Regions from separate parts of the Homo sapiens genome. Here region 1 is linked to region 2. The links come from fine-mapping of genetic effects on gene expression. A gene starts in region 2. The other region holds a variant in brackets. All regions are shown on one strand. Distances are from middle to middle.

Region 1 (9,354 bases), 50 kb before region 2:
CCTGGCATATATATATGGAGATTCCACAGGTAGGTACCCATGCCACCTGACACAGGTTCTGCCCTGGCAGCCACTCACACAGACCCTGTACCTACTTCTGGCTGTGGAATGCCGGTGGCTGCTGGCATATAACAAAGGCTACACTGGAAAACTGTCCCCACCATTTCCCCAGGTATGAAATCTTTGGAGAGACTGCTCTGAAAACCTTTTAGGGACAACCTGGGAATTTCTGTGCAAGAGTAATGCTGCATGCCACCCAGTATGCTGCAATTTGTTCCAACATGAGACAATTTGTTCCAAAGAGTACAACTGGCTGCTAGACATTAAACCCTATATTATGTTGGATCCAGCAACTGGGTTGAATCTCTCAGACATAATGATGTGTGAAAGAAGCCAGACACAAACGAGTATGTGGTGTATGATTCCATTTATATAAAATCAAAAATAAAATTAAAAGCAGGCAAAATGAATCTGTAATACTGATAAAAGTCTGAATGGTGGTTACTTCTTGAATGTGGGATATTGATCGGAAAGAGGTTCAAGGAGCCTCCTAGGGTGCTAGAAATGTTCATTTTCTTGATCTAGGTAGCAACTACACAGGTGTAAAAATACTTAAAAATTCATCAAGCTCTATACTTCAGATATGTATGCGTTTTACTTACATATGTTATAGCTCAATAAAAAATTAATTGAAAATATTGCATGAGATCTCCTAAAGTAAGAATTAACTTCTTCCTTTCTTTTAGCATAAGCATATCTGAGATTCTTTGAATTGAGTGTTTGCAAACAACATTCTTAGTAATAACAATAGCTAAATTAAATGCTTATATGTACCAGGCCCTATGCAGGGAGACATGAATTAACGCCTACATAAGGTAGATACCATCCAAATCTCCATTTCATAGATGAGAAAATTAAGGGACAGGGAAGTAAAGTAACTTGTCCAAAGTAAAACAGCAAATCAAATGGCAGAACTGACAAATCAAATTCAAACCCAAAGCAGTCTGACTCCAGAGACTTTGTTCTTAATTGATCTTAATGTTTTGTCATATGCTGAAGGATCAGGGGATTTTTTAAAAGTTTGATAGTATTTGATTGGTTTTATCCTTTCCCCAGTGCCTGAGAAGCATGTTCAGCATTAAGAAAAAAGAGGATTGGCCAGGCGCAGTGGCTCACACCTGTAATCCCAACGCTTTGGGAGGCCGAGGAGAGCAGATCGCTTGAGCCCAGGAGTTTGAGGCCAACCTGGTCAACATAGCAAAACCTCATTTCTACAAAATACAGACAAAAAAAATTATCCAGGGGTGGTGGTACATGCCTAATGCCTATAATCCCAGCTACCTGGGGTGGGGGGCGGGGGCTGAGGCAGGAGGATCACCTAAGTGTGGGTGGGGAGGTTGAGGCTGCAGTGAGCTGTGATCATGCCACTGCACTTCAGCCTGGGTGACAGAACAAGACCCAATCTCAAAAAAAAAGAAAAGAAAAAAGAGGAAAGAGAATCAGGATTTGGTTGGTGGGTTAACAGTCTCTAGCTGATTAAATTCCTGAGGTTCATTCAATAGATAAACCTAGTTTAGTCCAAGCGCCTATTTTCTGTGCCTTTAGTAGAGGAAAGTGGGTGCTATTATTGGCTTGTTATAGTCTCAAATTATTCCTTTCTCCTAAAAGAAATACACAGTGGGGGCAACACAGAGTGTTTTCATATGCTAGTCACTGAGGCTTTCTGGAACACTATGTCCTAGGATGAAATTTCCACAGCATGCCACACACTTTTCAGATCTGCTTTAGACCTTTTGAAAAGACTGAAGGGGCTTGTTTTCCCCTTTTCCCAGCTTTTATATTGTTATTATGTTAAATATAAAGTATCTGTGGAACCTGGAGAAGACATTAACCACTCTTTAATTATAAAATGCATAGCTTGGTATTTTCCAGACACCCGCTTTTATCCTTTACGGCCCTCTCAATTAGTTCCTCTGAAGTTCTCATATGAAAACCTGTTGGATTATTGATTTCTGGATTAAAAGGAGCTATAAATTATAGACCCTCTCAAAATCCATCAAGGGAAGGGGGAAGGCAGAAAGTGACTTAATGATGTTTTAGCCCCTATTAGCAACCAGGCCCAAATGTTTGGGCTCTACAATGCAAATATAGAATTATTCCCCAGCCCACCCCTGCTCCCCACAATGACTAGTAATGCACTCACTCACTTTTAAAGTAACTTGAAAATATGATTGAATGTTGACATTTTGAGTAAGAAATTGGTCTCATCCCACTCTTGCCCCAATGACCAGTGTGGCTCCCTGCCCACAGCGGTCTGGAGGGTCACAGCCCTGACCTTCACCCCAGTCCCAGCTCTGGAATGAAGCCCACCAAGGGTAGGTCACTGAGCAGCAGCCTCAAGGATGGAGAGTGTGCAGTGTCTTCCCCTGAGCTGGGAGATAGAGGACTGAGCAACAGACTCCTCTACCTGCCCTCTATGCTCTAATCTCCGTCCTGCATCAGCCACTGATGCTCTGCAAGACTTTCATCCTTCTCCCAGCCCACCTCCAGCACTCTGCCTAGCTCCAGCCAGCCCTCAGAACAGGGTCCTACTCCCTGTGGTCACATCTTGGATCTACCCATGTTGGCAGACTGAATTTCTCAGAGCTGTTCCTTTTGAGTACTGTCTTTTGCACTCTGACTAGGCTTTACCTAAATCAAACCAGGATGCACTGGCCTTTGGCTATACAGCTGAGGAGAGCACAGCTGGCCTCAGTCACTGGGCCATCTCCCTCCACTCTATCACGTACCATGGGAAGGTGATCTTGCCCCAGCTCCTCACCTTCACTTGGGCCCTACAGGTGCTGAGGTCTGCCAGATCCACCCAGGCCCTACATCATCTTAAAGTCCACCCTGGTTTGCTCAACTGCCCCATAAATTCAGGCTTTACCAGCTTTGCATTAGGCAAAGTTGAAACTCTCTGTTTCACCAAGTTGTGAGTGATTTCAAAGATGGATAATCTTAAATGCTATTATGGCATCAAGGTGAATTGAGGATGGAAGGGAATCACAACTTCCAGTGCTCAGCTTACACATGTCAGCCAAGCAAGGCCTTCTTCTCTAGTTAGCCTTCCTAAAATGATTTCAACACACACACACACACACACACACACACACACACTCACAGACATATGCACACACAGGCATTCACACTGTGTTCCTTTCTGAAAAGTAATCTTGGGGAAAAAAGCATGCAACATTGGTGCTGGTAAAAGAAATGAAGTAAAAGCTGAGGGCAAAGAAGTAACACATAAGCAGAAAACAGAATTTTGGATAATTTCAGAATTGAATCATCAATGTGGTGATAGCTGAGATGAACAAATCCATCATATATTTCTGATGAAAATAAGAAAAAGTGACTTTTATGCAAATGCAGAGAAAGAACTGCACATTATATAGGAAATTACATGCAAACATGGGCAATCCACATATTCTGGGATCCTTCAAGGGTGTCAAGGGTCTGTTGTACTTGTATTGCAAAGAGGAAAATATAATTACTTTGAAGGTCTTTTAGAGACAGTTTCCTGACCACTGGCAAACAGCAAAGCCAAAGGTAGATCCTTGTCCAATGTTCTTACCTGGTCATCATAGCGATAAGTGAGGAACTGCTCCCCTGTTGTGTCTTCCAGAAAACTTCCCTGAGGAGAAAGTGCAAACTCGGGAAGGAAATAGGCTCCAGGAGATTTCTCAGCTGTGGTCTGAAAAACAAGATCATTTGGTCACAAATAAGGCTCCAGTAAGGACCCCCTGACAGGTAAAGTCCAAGAAGGCCATTCCAGGAGAATCCACCATTAATAGCTGTACCAAGAAACAAAAAGGGAAGTGACCTCTCTTGGCAAAGACCAGGGTGAGGCACACCAGGTGTGTCAGGGCACTGTTAGGCCAGGATATCACAGTGGCCCGAATCAAACTGGCAGCCATGGCATTTATTCTCTGACACCTGCCTCTCTCCCCCTCCCCGCTACCTCTGCTCCCCATCTTCCAGCAATTCAGTCACAGAGTAGTTAACTTTGTCTTGTTGTTGCAAATCTATTGTTTTTAGGATTTTCTTTTCTTCTTCCTTTTGTGTTTTTTTTTTTTTTT[G/TG]GCAAAGGAGTGAGAAACAAAAATTTTCTCCCATACTACAACAAAAATGCACTTCATTGTAGAAACTTTAGAACATATAAATGAGCACAGAAGAAAATAAAATCACCCATAATCTTTTCAACCTGTAATAACCACTGTTAATTGTTTTGGTGTATTTCCTTTGAGACTTTTTCTTCATAATGCTTTGTTTAAAAATCCAAGCTTAAATAAACATGCATATTGTAGACTGTGTTTAGTTCATGGAAAGCTCATACCCCAGTCCGTTTTCATGCTGCTGATAACTACATACCCGAGACTGGGAAGAAAAAGAGGTTTAATTGGACTTAGAGTTCCACGTGGCTGGGGAGGCCTCAGTATCATGGCAGGAGGTGAAAGGCACTTCCGACATGACGGCCACAAGAGAAAGTGAGAGGGATGCAAAAGCGGAAACCCCTGATAAAACCATCAGATCTCGTGAGACTTATTCACTATCACGAGAACAGTATGGGGGAAACTGTCCCTATGATTCAAATTATCTCCCACCGGGTCCCTCCCACAACACATGGGAATTATAGGAGTACAATTCAAGATGAGATTTGAGTGGGGACACAGAGCCAAACCATATCACTCCACCCCTGGCCCCTCCAAATCTCATGTCCTCACATTTCAAAACCAATCATGCCTTCCCAACAGTCCCCCAAAGTCTTAACTAATTTCAGCATTAACCAAAAAGTCCACAGTCCAAAGTCTCATTTGAGACAAGGCAAGTCACTTCTGCCTATAAGCCTGTAAATTCAAAAGCAAGCTAGTTACTTCCTAGATACAATGAGGGTATAGGTATTGGATAAACACAGCCATTCCAAATGGGAGAAATTGGCCAAAACAAAGGAGTTACAGGGCACATGCAAGTCCAAAATCTAGTGGGGCGGTCAAATTTTAAAGCTCCAAAATGATCTCCTTTCACTCCAGGTCTCATGTCCAGGTCACGCTGAGGCAAGAGGTGGGTTCTCATGGTCTTGGGCAACTCCACCCTTGTGGCTTTTCAGGGTATGGCCTCTCTCCCAGCTGTTTTCACAGGCAGGCGTTGAATGTCTGTGGCTCTTCGAGGAACATGGTCCAAGCTGTCAGTGGATCTACCATTCTGGGGTCTGGAGGACAGTAGCCCTCTTCTCACAGCTCCACTAGGCAGTGCCCCAGTAGGAACTCTGTATGGGGGCTCCGACCCCACATTTCCCTTCCGTACTGCTATTGCACAGGTTCTTCATGAGGGCCCCGCCCCTGCAGCAAACTTTTGCCTGGGCATCCAGGTGTTTCCATACAACCTCTGAAATCTGGGCAGAGGTTCCCAAACCTCAATTCTTGACTTCTGTTGCAGGCTCAACATCACAAGGAAGATGCCAAGACTTGGGGCTTCCACCCTCTGAAGCCACAGCCCGAGCTCTACATTGGCCCCTTTCAGCCATAGCTGGAGCAGCTGGGACACAGGGCACCAGGTCCCTAGGATGCACACAGCCAAGGGACCCAGGGCCCAGCCCGCAAAACCACTTTTTCCTCTTGGGCCTCCAGGCCTGTAATGGGAGGGGCTGCCATGAAGGTCTCTGACATGCCCTGGAGACATTTTCCCCATAGTTCTGGGAATTAGCATTAGGCTCCTTACTACTTATGGAAATTTCTGCAGCCAGCTTGAATTTTTCCCCAGAAAATGGGTTTTTCTTTTCTATTGCATAGTCAGGCTGCAAATTTTCTGAACTTTTATGTTCTGTTTCCCTTTTTAAACTGAATGCCTTTAACAGTATCCAAGTCATCTCTTGAATGCTTTGCTGCTTAGAAATTTCTTCCACCGGGTACCCTAAATCTTCTCTCTCAAGTTCAAAGTTCCACAAATCTCTAGGGCAGGGGCAAAATGCCACCAGTCTCTTTGCCAAAACATAACAAGAGTCACCTTTGCTCCAGTTCCCAAGAAGTTCCTCATCTCTATCTGAGACCACCTCAGCCTGGACCTTTTCATTCATATCATTATCAGCATTTTGGTAAAGGCAATCAACAAGTCTCTCCGGAGTTCCAAACTTTCCCACATTTTCCTGTCTTCTTCTGAGCCCTCCAAACTGTTCCAACCTCTGCTTGTTACCCAGTTCCAAAGTTGCTTCTACATTTTCAGGTATCTTTTCAGCAGCACCCGATTCCACTGGTGCCAATTTACTGAATTAGTCCAATTTCATGCTGCTGGTAATGACATACTCGAGACTGGGAAGAAAAAGAGGTTTAATTGGACTTACAGTTCGACATGGCTGGGGAGGCCTCAGAATCATGGCAGGAGGCAAAAGGCACTTCTTACATGATGGTGGCAAGAGAAAATGAAGGGATGCAAAGTGGAAACCATTGATAAAGCCATCAGATCTTGTGAGACTTATTCACTGCCATGAGAACAGTATGGGGGATACCTCCCCCATGATTCAAATTATCTCCCACCGGGTCTCTCCCACAGCATGTGGGAATTATGAGAGCACAATTGAAGATGAGATTTGGGTGGGGACACAGAATCAAACCATATTACCTGGCATCTGAATCACTGGACATAAATCACAATGGTTGGAGTCTGAGGGGGTCAGAAAGGACACCCTCTTTAGGGGAATATGGCTGGGATATGATGACCCAATGGACTTGCTACCATCACACTATCACCCACCTCCTGGGAGAGCCTGTCCAAGGGAAGACTGAGGAGGTAGAGGGTTTACCAGGATCACTGCCTTGATTGCTTCAAGGAGGAAAGTAATAAAGGAGATAGAATCTGCAGAGCTTAGCCCCATCCAGTCAAAAATACATGGATCTGTGACTATACCCCCGACTGGATACCTCACTCCCCCTGCTTGGGAAGAAATGAGTCAGAAATAAATTAAGAGGCCACAGGTGTTACTCTAAGAAAATTGCTCTCTGCAAACAGGAGAAGCAGGGAGTAAACATATTCCTCTGACACCTCTGCTGCTCCAATGGACTCATTCTCAAACTGCAGCAGGAACTATAGTTTACGCTAAAACGTCCCTCTGAATACTGTGTTTTAGAAAGGGAAATCAACATCATTCTGTCAAGGAATATAGAAGAGATAACTCCACTAGACTAGATGGCTTAGATAGCACTAGACTGTTAAAATAATTTGAAGACTTTCTTATTAAATTTCATTTATGTGAGAGATTTAGCACCACTATTGCTAATTGCTCTTACTGGCTTCAATCATCACTTTATTTTTTTTACTTTAATTTTTTTTAGACGGAGTCTTGCTCTGTCACCCAGGCTGGAATTGAGTGACGTGATTTCAGCTCACTGCACTCTCCGCCTCACAGGTTCAAGCAATTCTCCTGCCTCAGCCTTCCTAGTAGCTGGGATTACAAGTGCCCACCACCATGCCTGGATAATTTTTGTATTTTTAGTAGAGACGGGGTTTCACCATGTTGGCCAGGCTGGTCTCGAACACCTAATCTCAGGCGACCTGCCCGCCTTGGCCTCCCAAAGTGCTGGGATTACAGGCATGAGCCACCGCGCCCAGCCAGAATCATCATTTTAAATACCTAAAGAGACCTTAGAAGTCATCTAGGTCAAACTCCTTATTTTAAAAATGAGTAAACTATAGCTCTGAGAGTTAGGAGACTAACCAATCACCAAATCTGACAGTGACTATTCCTGGCACACAAAAAAAGAACAAGTGCAAAAGCCCTAAAATAGAAAGGAGGTCAGTGAGTTTGAGGAACAGACGCAGGCTTACAGCCAGGGCTGGAACCTGTTAGCAGCCATGTGCCAATACCTGGACAGATCCATTTACCAGAGTGGAAGCAGTCAAAGATCGCCACCTTAAAACAGCTTCCCGCATATAGTGGACCTTCCAGTGTGATGCTTATATTCAGTTGACCATGCATTCAACACATATTTATTGAGCACCTAATATATGCCTGGCACAGTTCTCAGTGCGATAGATACAATGAGGAACAAAAAAGATCAGGTTCCTATTTTCATGGAGGTTACATCCTAGAGGTGGAGATACATAGTAAAATAAGTAAACAAATACATAAATAAGAAAACTAACATTCTAAGTTCTAAAGGAAATAAACAAGGTGATATGAGAATAATGTTGGGAGAGGACTGTTCAATTTTAGATAAGATGGTCAAAAAAGGCATCCATGGGAAGATAAGATTTCAGATGATACCTCAAACAGGAGGAGCCAGTTATGGAAAAAGCTAAGGATGAGTATTACCGGCAAAAGAAGAGCAAGTACAAAAGCTCCAAAGTGGAAAGGAAGTCAGTGAATTGGAAGAACTAGAGTGTGGCTGAATTCAGTGCGGACAAGTAACAGTGGCACGAAATGGATAAAGAAGGAAGGGAAAAGCCACCCAAGACATTTAAAGCCTTATGGTAAGGAGACGGAGAACAATAGAAGAGTATTTAAACAACACTGACTGCTTTGTGGAGACTGAGCTAGAAGAAGGTAAAGTGGAATCACAAAGACTAGTTGGAAGGCTGTTGGTACTAACCCAGGTGAAAAGGGATGGTTCCTTGGACTGGGATGATGGCAGTAGAGAAGGGGAGAGGTGCATGGATTAGAAGTAGAACCAACAAAGCTTTCCGATGAGGGAGGAAAAGGGAGGAATCAAGGGTGACTTCTGGGTTTTTGGCTTGAGCAATGGCTGTAAAGGAATTGTAATGGATGGATAGCCCTGAGGCAGAAACTGATTTGTTGGTGAGGATAGAGTCAACAGTTCTGTTTGAGTCATGTTAAGTTGGAGGTGTCCATAAAACATCCATGTGAAGAGCTTGAGTTTGCCATTCAATATGCAAGTCCAGAGCTCAGAAAGGAAATCTGACGCTGGAGATAGGGATTTGGAAGTCATCACTTAACATTTTCATAATGTATGTATGTATGTATGTATATTTACATATATTTACAACCATTATACCAGAAAAGCCACTCCCTAGAGAAAGAGTTTGGCAGGCAAGAGGGCTTTGCCTGACACCCTCAATTCTAATATTTGAAATTAAGTAGAAGAGGAGGAGCAAGCAGAAGAGACTAAAAATGAACATCAATTAGAGTAGAATAAAAAGGAAAACACCCTATATTAGGTCATGGGAAGATTTAGCGTCAAACAGAATAGTCAAGTGTCTTGAATGCTGCTAAGAAACTGAGGAAGATGAGGCCAGAGAAGTATCCCTTGGATCTAGCAACAGGGAAGTCAACGTTGACTTTGACAAGGGTAGTTATGGTGCAGT
Region 2 (9,354 bases):
CTCACAATTATTTGTGGGCAGTGAATATAAGAGTTTACATTTTAGCTGATTCAATAAAGAAAATATATTTGTGGACGGGCGCAGTGGCTCACATCTGTAATCCCAGCACTTTAGGAGGCCGAGGTGGGCAGATCACTTGAGGTCAGGAGTTCGAGACCAGCCTGGCCAACATGGCAAAACCTCATCTCTACCGATAATACAAAAATTAGCTGGATGTGGTAGTGTGCGCCTGTAGTCCCAGCTACTCAGAGGCTGAGACACGAGAATTGCTTGAACCCAGCAAGCAGAGGTTGCAGTGAGCTGAGATCATGCCACTGCATTCTAGCCTGAGCAACAGTGTGAAACCATGTCTCAAAAGAAAAGAAAAGAAAGGAAACTCTATTTGTTATTAATTAGTTGGCACATCCCTTGCTCCTCACAGCTCAGCCTCACACATCTAGCAGTTTTCTAACAACCACCTTGGTGGCAGCACATACGAAGCAAGGGTAGACGCCAGGGAACACCTTAAGCCCCACCCAAACACCAAAATCACAAGATACTTCAGAAAGGGCGGCCTTGAGTCAAACCCAGGCTGACCCTACGGAAAAAACAGAGCATCCAACCCACGGACAGGGACACAGGGCTGACCTACCACCCTTCATTAGAACCTTTTCTCAGGGCCTCTGGTGAGACAGACCTAGCCATGCCCACCCACACTCCCTGAAGATCAGGCCCTCCACAGCTGATACCTCTTGAGTGCCCCCTACAGGCTCTACACCAGAAAATACAGGCACTGCGCTTGCTTCAAGCTTCTAATGCTGACAAGCAGCAGCAACAGCAGAATGCTGACATTTATTGTACACTTACTATGTGCCAGACATTGTTTGGTTTGGTTTTTCACTTTTTTCCACTTCACAATGGATTAACTCTTCCAAACAATTCTGAGGTCTATACTAATATTATCTCCTCTGTATAGATGTGAAAACTGAGATGCGATGCAGAGACGTTTGCGTGACACAGTAATGAAGTGGTAGAGCTGGGATCCGAACAGTGAGTGGCGTGAATGATGAAGACTGCTGGTCTGAAATCTCCTTTTATGACCTTCTATGCACACTGCCTGGATACATGGAAACAGCACTGCCACAGGCACACAGATATGGAAAAATCCAAAAGAGGTCAGTGAGTGATTCAAGCTGGGCAAACACTGCCCTTGGCCAAAGGTCAACAGACTGCCTCAAAGCATATTTAAATTTTATAAGGTGAAAGAAGGCAAAATGAACACTGTGCCTTGAAGCCTCAGCCCCATTTGACCAGGAACAAATCTCTGAAGCTCTCAAAGCCTGTTTCAGATCCGCTGATGAGACAGAAACGTAAGTCTCCACGCTTTTACCTCAACAGTCATCTCGCTGGCCAGAGAACCCTAACATCATCCTGAAAAGACTTAACTTTTGTTCTAACAAAAGAGCTCTATTAATATGATTATGGGATAGTATCGATAAAATGGGATAGTGGGGAGAAGATGTACCTTGCTGACCAGTTCTTTGTGCATCACAGAATTCACAGGGCATTGGAGCCAAAAGAGGCTTTAGAGGCACTAAGTCCAAGAAAGTGAAACAAGAGGCAGAGGAGTCTGATTAATTTATCCCAGGGTATATATCTTCATTCATGGATGCATGTTTATTTAACAGACATTTAAGCCCTTAAGTGACAAGTCCCTTCCGAGACCCTGAGGGTACACAGGCCACCAAGCCATGTATTTGAGAAGCTATGTCTGCAGGGAGGGATTGCCTTGTTCTAATTCATAAGACACTGTATGGAGCTAGCAGCAGCCCTTGGGACACAATACTAAGATGTGCCCTGCCTTTAGATCTGGGGCTGCAAACTGCTTGGCTGAATCCAGGCTGCAAACACATTTATCTGCCTTTCAATACTTTAAAAACTGGGAAATTTTGTAAGAAGTCTAGATGATCCAGCTATCTTGAAAAATAAGATCTGGCAATCCTGGGCTTATGTCTCCACTTAGCAACGATCAGATGGAATTGAGTAGAGACTGCTCTTAATAGATGGAGCACGCGTTCTGCACTTTGCCACTGTCTCCGTTACTCTCTATTGTCTCTTAGGCAATGCTAGCCTCATTCCTTTGTTTGAGTCTGTCCTTTAGGCAAATAAAGATGCAATTCATGAGCCGGGTCCTCTCAAGTTGGTTGGAAAAGACAGCAGAAGTCTAAAGAGAGGACTGTGGGATAAAACAGTGGGATATGTGATGATAGATGTAAACTCAGAATATTTATTTAGCAGCTTAGCTAGGGCCAGAACCTGGCTCTGCCCATTGTTTCCTGGTCTCCAGCAACCCAGCCTCTGCTGGGCACATGCAGACAGCCATTCTAGTCTGAAATGACAGGGTCCATCACAGCCCCAGGTCATCACCGGTGTATGGTATCCACAGTGCTATTAAAGCCCTACTCAGGATTCAGAGAGGACCCAAGGGATCTGGATAATCCTTACAGCTAAGCCAACCAGAAATACCATTGGCTAGAGATAGGAAAGAAAGTCTGGTTCTCTGGTGTAGGATTAACACTAATCATGCCACATCTTAGGTGGTATACAATAATGCCTCTGAGTAAACAGAGGGATGTCCACCATTTCCCTTCCCCTCCCTATATGACCTTACCTGCGGGAGGGGAGAGTGCATGAAGACCATCCCTATCAGCACCCACCAGGGGCTCGTCCAGGAAGCCATGGGGTCTAGTCTCCTCCGGGTCTCAGTTGTAGCCTACAAACGAGGAAAGAGTTCATTACCAACCAGCTCTGGCCCCCATGGCAGTAAACCGTGACTTAAGCGACCCATTAGATGGAGGGACCCTGAAGCCCATATACTATTTTGGAAAGGTTTGTGTTGGCCCAGGTTGCCGCTGCCTACTGCAGGGTGCAGGCTAACTGGGCTCCCTTTAGAAGGTCCACAACAAAGTCAGGCGAGGGCTGGACCTGTCTCCAGTGGGCATCTCATACCTCCAGCTCTTCAGAAGCTGAGATATCCCTGCCCAAGCCTATCTGTCAGCAGCAGGGTGTCGCTATTGGCATTTGACTCAGGAAGCCAGCACAGAGCCAAGGTTTAGGCTAGCTTCTGCTGCTCGCGGCAAAAATGAGTCTAAGACAACAAAGCCGCCCAGAGAGGGAAAGGACCTGCCTAAGGTCACACAGCAAGATAGTGACATTTTAGGGCTGAAACGCAGATCTTCTGATAGTTCAAGGCTTTCCTCGCTAGATGACACCGTGCGCCCTCGAGGTCCGGGACCCACACCCAGAGAGACGCCTGAGAGCTAAGTTCAGGGAGGTTTGGAGGACACAGCCCCTGAGCCAGCCTAACACAATCTCCTAAAAGTAGGTGAGGGCCAGCCAGCAGAGGTCAGCTGAAACCAGGAGGGAAGCGGGGACTTTTTCCCTTACTTTTCCTGTCAATTTACAGGGAAATCAGTATGAGTCGAGACTGGAAAAGCCGAGGTCACACTCGACTCCCGCTTCGCCTCGCGGGCGCCTTGGCGGAGCTGGTGTCCGGGGGCGGGTCGGTGGCTTCTCTCCATCTGGAGAAGGCATTAAGGGCCTGGTCTAATGTGATCCGCAAATGTGCTGCTGTTTCCGACCTGAGGCGGCGACTCCTGGCTGAAGGGAGGCGGCCAGTGCGGGGCCCTGGGACTCTGCGCCACCCTCGCCTGCTCGCACCAGCCTTCCGAGTGCACACTCCTCCGACTACCCGCTGCCTCGAAGTCGCTCCTCCAGTGCCTCCGCCGCGTCCCGGTCACCCCCACGCCCACTTTCCACGATCGCGCGTCGCCTCAACCCCCGGCGTTCTGGGCGCTCGCTACCCAGTGGTCAACCGGCCGGACCTTCGGACCCGCGAGGTTTCTGCTTAGTAACTCCCAATCCTGAAAAACTCCAACCCTGTGGAGTTCCCCCATAATCAAGAACGCCCCTCAGCCCGCGAACTGCCGCCGAAAGACTCTCCCTGAACCTTCCGGGACGGCACGAAGCGCGCCCGACCCGAGGTGCCCAGCAGTGAGGAGCACCCCAGTCCTGAGGCCCCCTGGGGCCCGCGTGGCACGCCCCGACTCTGCTTGGAGACCCCCAACTTGCTTAGAGAGGCCACTGCTCCAAGTCTTACTCCCTCTGGGGAGCGCCTTCCCCCGACCCCTGAGGGGCCGCCCTGCGCCGAGCTCGGTGCACCCACCTTGCGCCGCAGAAGTATCTGGGACGTGCAGCCCCGGGGCCGCGCGGGCTCGGCGCGCGCTGGGGAGAAGTTGGCAGAAGCCGCCCGTCAACACCTCGTGCGGAATCCGGCACCAGGACCTTCCCCGACGCCGGCCTCCAGCCCGCGGCGCCGCAGTCGCCGCCGCCGCCGCGAAGTTAAATGGGGCTGGGACGGGGGCTGCCCCGCCTCTCCCGCCCCCTCCGGGCGCGCAGAGCGCTGCGCTGGCCCCGGCCCAGAGGCGGAGGGCGCGCGCCGCCACCTGCACCGCCCGGCAAGTGCACGGCGCGCCCAGGCGCCCGTCAGCCTGCGCGCCGGCACCGCGCCCTCGGCTTGAGCTGGAGGCGCCGGGGGCGCGAAGAGACGCCGTGTGGGGCCAGGCCCGGGCCGCTCGGAGCGCGCGGGGCCGCGGCGACGGCGGGACTCGGCTGGAACGCTCCTCCGCCCGCTTCCTGGAAGCCACTCCTCGCCCTGGGCCGGCCGCCAGGCGTTGTGCCAAGAGCCGGGATTGCCGACGCCGCCACCGCCGCCGCCGGCAGGCGCACTGGGGAAAGGCGGCCGCTGCGCCGCAAGCCAGCCTGGCCGCCCCGCCTCAGCCGGAGCCGGAGCAGGGATGCCGTCGCTCCCCCCGAGCCCACCCCCGGCCCCACCTCCCATAGCCTCCACCCACCCCGCCCAGACCCGGGCGCCAGCTCTGCAAAGTCAGGCCCAGCAGCCACACAGAGGTTTGCCCGGAACCGCTGGCTCGTGCCTAAGAGCCATAGGCACTCCTGGCCAGGCAGGACCATAGTGGAGACCAATGGCCCTCTCCTGGCCTGCGCCTCCTCCGCGCAGCATAGACGCCACACAAGGGACTGTGGAGCGCTCACTGCCCAGAGGCCTGGGACCTTTGGCAGCCAGGGACCACGAGGATCTTGCAGGAGCGCCTCTTAACTGGGTACCTGGCGCCTCCTTGTCTGAGCCGGGCTTGGGGAACTGAGAGCTCCACAGGTGCCAGAATCATGCCGTGTCCAGGCCTGGGATTTGGGGTTGGGGGGAAGAGTGTCGCGGACAAGAGACTGGGGTGAGTTGCCTGTGTACTTCTGGAGGTGAGGAGAAGTAAAAGGAAATGTTTGTCCCTGTCCTTGTCCTAGTCCCAGCAGGATAAGCCAAGGGCCAGGAGATTGATCTTAAAGGCTGCATTATGCCCCCACCTAAGTCCTACCACAGTCGCCATTTCCTTGGGTGTCTGTCGAGTACCAAGCTCTTTGTGTCTATCTGATCTTCACAGCAGCAGTAGTTCGAGCATTATCCCATTTCACCTAGGATAAATCTGAGGCTGGGAGGATAACTTGCCCACCATGAGTGGAGAAGCCAGGACTGGAACCCCTATCTGCCTCTCTCTAGAGCCTGGACTGTTCACCCCTAAAGTTGTTCTCCTGCCTTCTCTGTGGTTGCTGCGTTCCGGTTACTGCTAGAGCTTTGCCAAGAGCAATTGGCCCTGCCTGCTTTCCTCACTCATTCTTCCCTTACTTACTCTGGTGACTTCCTCTGACCAAGAAGAGGATCTTCAAGGCTGTCTCTCCACTCTATGTAAAATGATTGGACTTGTGGCAAGTGAGCAGAGGACAGGTCAGTGTGGAGACAGGAGAGGTAAGAGTAGCCAGTGAAGGGTAGGGAGGGCTGGGCTAAACTAGAACTAACTCATCTATGGACAATCGATCCTTTTTATTTACTGTAGTTGTGGTCTATAAAGTCACAGAACAACGAATTTGTGAATATGGAGCCATTGTTCCTAGGGGAAATATAGAGTTGGGTTCCTGCAAGCTCACAATATTTTTGTCAATCAATCAACACATTGCCTTATTTTATGCATGTTTCTGTTTAAAGACGCCTTACTTAACATCTATTGTTGATTCCTGAACACTGAGCTCACAGCCTACAGTGCTGTAACTCATGCCTGAATGAAGCTTATCTAACTTACGTATTTTCTCTGCAACACACATCCCAGCCTTCTTCCACTTAGGAACGCTAGACTTCACTTCAGCACTGTGCCTGGGGGGTGCTTTAAGCAGCAAAATCATCAAAAAAAAGACCAAAAAAATGTGAAAACATGGCAATGAAGAGAACTTTTGGGCCACTCATTTACAGTGTGAAAGCTGAAACAAGAAGACAGAGGGTTGACTGGTTGGACCTTAGCTTCCAACATGTGTCTCAAGAGACTCAAAACGTTCAGCACTGGTTCAATGACTTTGAAAGTGCTGCAGCTATTGATTATGAGGTGTTAAAATAAAAACTTTAGACAAATTTAACAGAGGTTAATTGAGCAAAGAACAATTTGAAAATAGGGCAGCCCCCCTCAGCCCCAAAACAAAATAGATTCAGAGCAACTCTGGGGCTTCCACATAGTCAGATAATATTTATGGATAGAAAACGGAATATGATGAACAGAAAACGGAAATGAGGTACAGAAACAGCTGGATTGGTTACAGCTCGGCATTTGCCTTATTTAAACATGGTTTAAACAGTTGACCGCCTGTGATTGGCCAAAACTCTGTGACTGCTTCAAGAGTAGGTTACAGTCTGTTTACACATCATCAGGTTACAGTTTACTATGTACAGAGAGACCTTTAGGCCGAACTTAAAATATGTAAGAAGGCAACTTTAGGCTAAACTTAATTTAACGGAGGTGACAAATAAATTTTACCCAGTAGCTGAATTCACAATAAGGAATCTGCAAATAATGAGAATTGATTTTTCGTGCTTCTCATATCAGAGTATCAGTAAAGGAATAGCCACATTAACATTCAAAACACTTAGGATGTGGCAGGCACTGTTCCAGATACTTTGCTTATACCGAGTCATCCCATCATCACAACAGCCTATGGGGTAGATATTATTTTTATTCCCATTTTGCAAATGAGGAAACTGAAGTGGAAAGGTTTAAATACCTCATGTTCTTAGCAACTAGACGATACCACTCCTCATCGTTCATATTCTAAAACTAGCCCCACCATATCATGGAGTCAAATGCAAAAAAGTCACATGAATATGCAAGATGAAATGGAGAATTCAAAGAAATATTATGCTTGTGCAGTGGTGGCTGCATTAAGCAGAGCTCCCGGTGTCTGCAACTCAAGAAGTCACTGAGAATGCCTCTGGAGTTGGGGGACTTTGCTGGGAACATTTGAGATGCACTGCTCTGTTTTAAGGTATTAATGGCTCAGCAGGACTTCCTGTCTCATCTCCCTTGGGCAATCTGACTCCTGAGCCAGCCTCCAAGGAGTGCCCCACACCAAGTACTAAGACCAGGACTGAGCCTTTCTCTCCCACAGGTTCCATCTAGCAGGAGGCCAGCCCCCTCAAAGAGCAGGTGTTCCAGTAGCGAAAAGTAGTAGAGAAAACATCACCAATACCTTTATAGAACTTTTGCCTTCCAGTTAACCCTAGCAGGTCAAGCAAACCTGTGTGAGTGGCCAAGGTACTGTAAGTTAGGACAACAAAGAGCTGCAGAGGACAGCCTCCACTGGGGGTGCTGGCTGGACTTCACAGATGTTATGCGCAGAATCATGGCCTCACCACCCCTCAGTCACCTCTTCCCTCACCCCTTCCCTCAGTCACTCACCCACACTTCCCTCCCATCCTTACTTCCTCACCTGAGGCTTGGCCCAAATGTTTAAATAAGACATTGCCAAAGGCATGGTGTGGTGGGAGATCAGGAATTGGGAAGAACAGGAATGAATAAACCCCAAAGCAGCTAATCTGGCTGATTTGGCTGTTGAGTGTAGCCACCTACCCAATCACTATCTGGGGAGGTTCAGGCCCCTCCCTGCCTACTTCCTGGACTTCCTCCCTGTGAGAACACCCACCACCTGGGGACAATGGCAATGCATTTAGACTCTGAAGGGTCGAGGAAACTGAGTTCCATTTCCTCCCTAAGATCCAACTTCTTGGCTTCCTGGCTTTCACTACCTGTCTCAGGACCTGCTTCTTCCTAGATGAATTTCAGAGATTCCTGCCCGCGCTCCCAGCTTTGCCTGCTCCCAGCTTTGCCTGTTGACCTCAACCCAACAAGCACACAGTACAACATTCACGTGAGAGATACACATTGAAGATCAGGAAAGGAACTATTGATGATGGTGGTGTTGGGGTGTGTTTAGGTTTTACCCTTAGAGACAAGGAATATCAATTCAGGCATCAGCCTTAATTTGTTCTTGAAACAGAAATGCTCTTTCTGGTTACAGAGTTGTGAAGTGGGCTTGGGAAGCACACTCAAGAACGCTGTGTTGGAGGCTTGGAGAAAAAGAGTACTTGGAGGCAAGTACTCCAATAGAAGTTACCATTGACTGCAGCAGACACCAAAGATACACTCTCAGCCAAGGCCACTAAGAGATAACACATCTGGGGCCAGGTGCGGTGGCTCATGTCTGTAATCCCAACACTTTGGGAGGCCGAGGCGGGCAGATCATTTGAAGTCAGGAGTTCGAACCCAGCCTGGCCAACATGGTGAAACCCCATCTTTGCTAAAAAATACAAAAATTAGCCAGACATGGTGGCGTGCACATGTAGTCCCAGCTACACGGGTGGCTGAAGCAGGAGAATCACTTGAACTGGGAGGCAGAGGTTGCAGTGAGCTGAGATCACACCACTGCACTGCAGCCTGGGCAACAGAACGAGACTCTATCTCAAAAAAAAAAAAAAGAACACATCTGGATGTTAGGTGAACATAGTGCCTTAGGGGCACAAAATTAGCTAGCGAGTGTTCTTCAGGAAAAACCTATGAAGGAGTGAGGGAAGCAGGATAGGTAAGGCGCAAGACTAGAGCAAGCTGTGACTGAGGTCAAGCCTAACCTTCATGTGATCCTCGGGGATCCTGGAACAGAAACCACACCATAGATTTGCCGTGACTTGAAGCACCAGGACCAACTGCTGACCCGGGTGCCAGTAAGTCACTGCCTCCACTGGAGCTGGGTGGTGGTATATGGTGGTATAACCTCCAAGGTGGCTCCCTGTGGCCAAGGACAATGCTCCAGGAATGTATCAGCTGTAAGCCTTTAGCTGCTGCACCAAATATATGCTGGGGATAGGTGTGCCTGCTGGTAAAGAAATCGGACAGGGCATCCTCTCCAACGGCATCTACCATGCCTGGTTTT

The links. PIP is the estimated chance that this variant, and not a neighbour inherited with it, causes the effect.
Region 1: its variant is fine-mapped to the expression of ADAMTSL3 in iPS cells (HipSci, PIP 0.95).

What each region holds. Positions count from the first base shown.
Region 1 is chr15:83,698,771-83,708,124 of GRCh38, reverse strand. It overlaps ADAMTSL3 (ADAMTS like 3), which reads right to left. Exons shown (of 30, transcript NM_207517.3): 3 at 3,617-3,736. Among named protein-coding and RNA genes, the nearest start is that of ADAMTSL3, 49 kb to the right of the region's middle. The variant G/TG (reference allele first, on the strand shown) is at 4,122.
Region 2 is chr15:83,649,127-83,658,480 of GRCh38, reverse strand. ADAMTSL3 (ADAMTS like 3) reads right to left here and starts at 4,358. Exons shown (of 30, transcript NM_207517.3): 1 at 4,205-4,358; 2 at 2,651-2,752. The coding sequence starts at 2,719. RefSeq lists an enhancer at 5,720-5,889.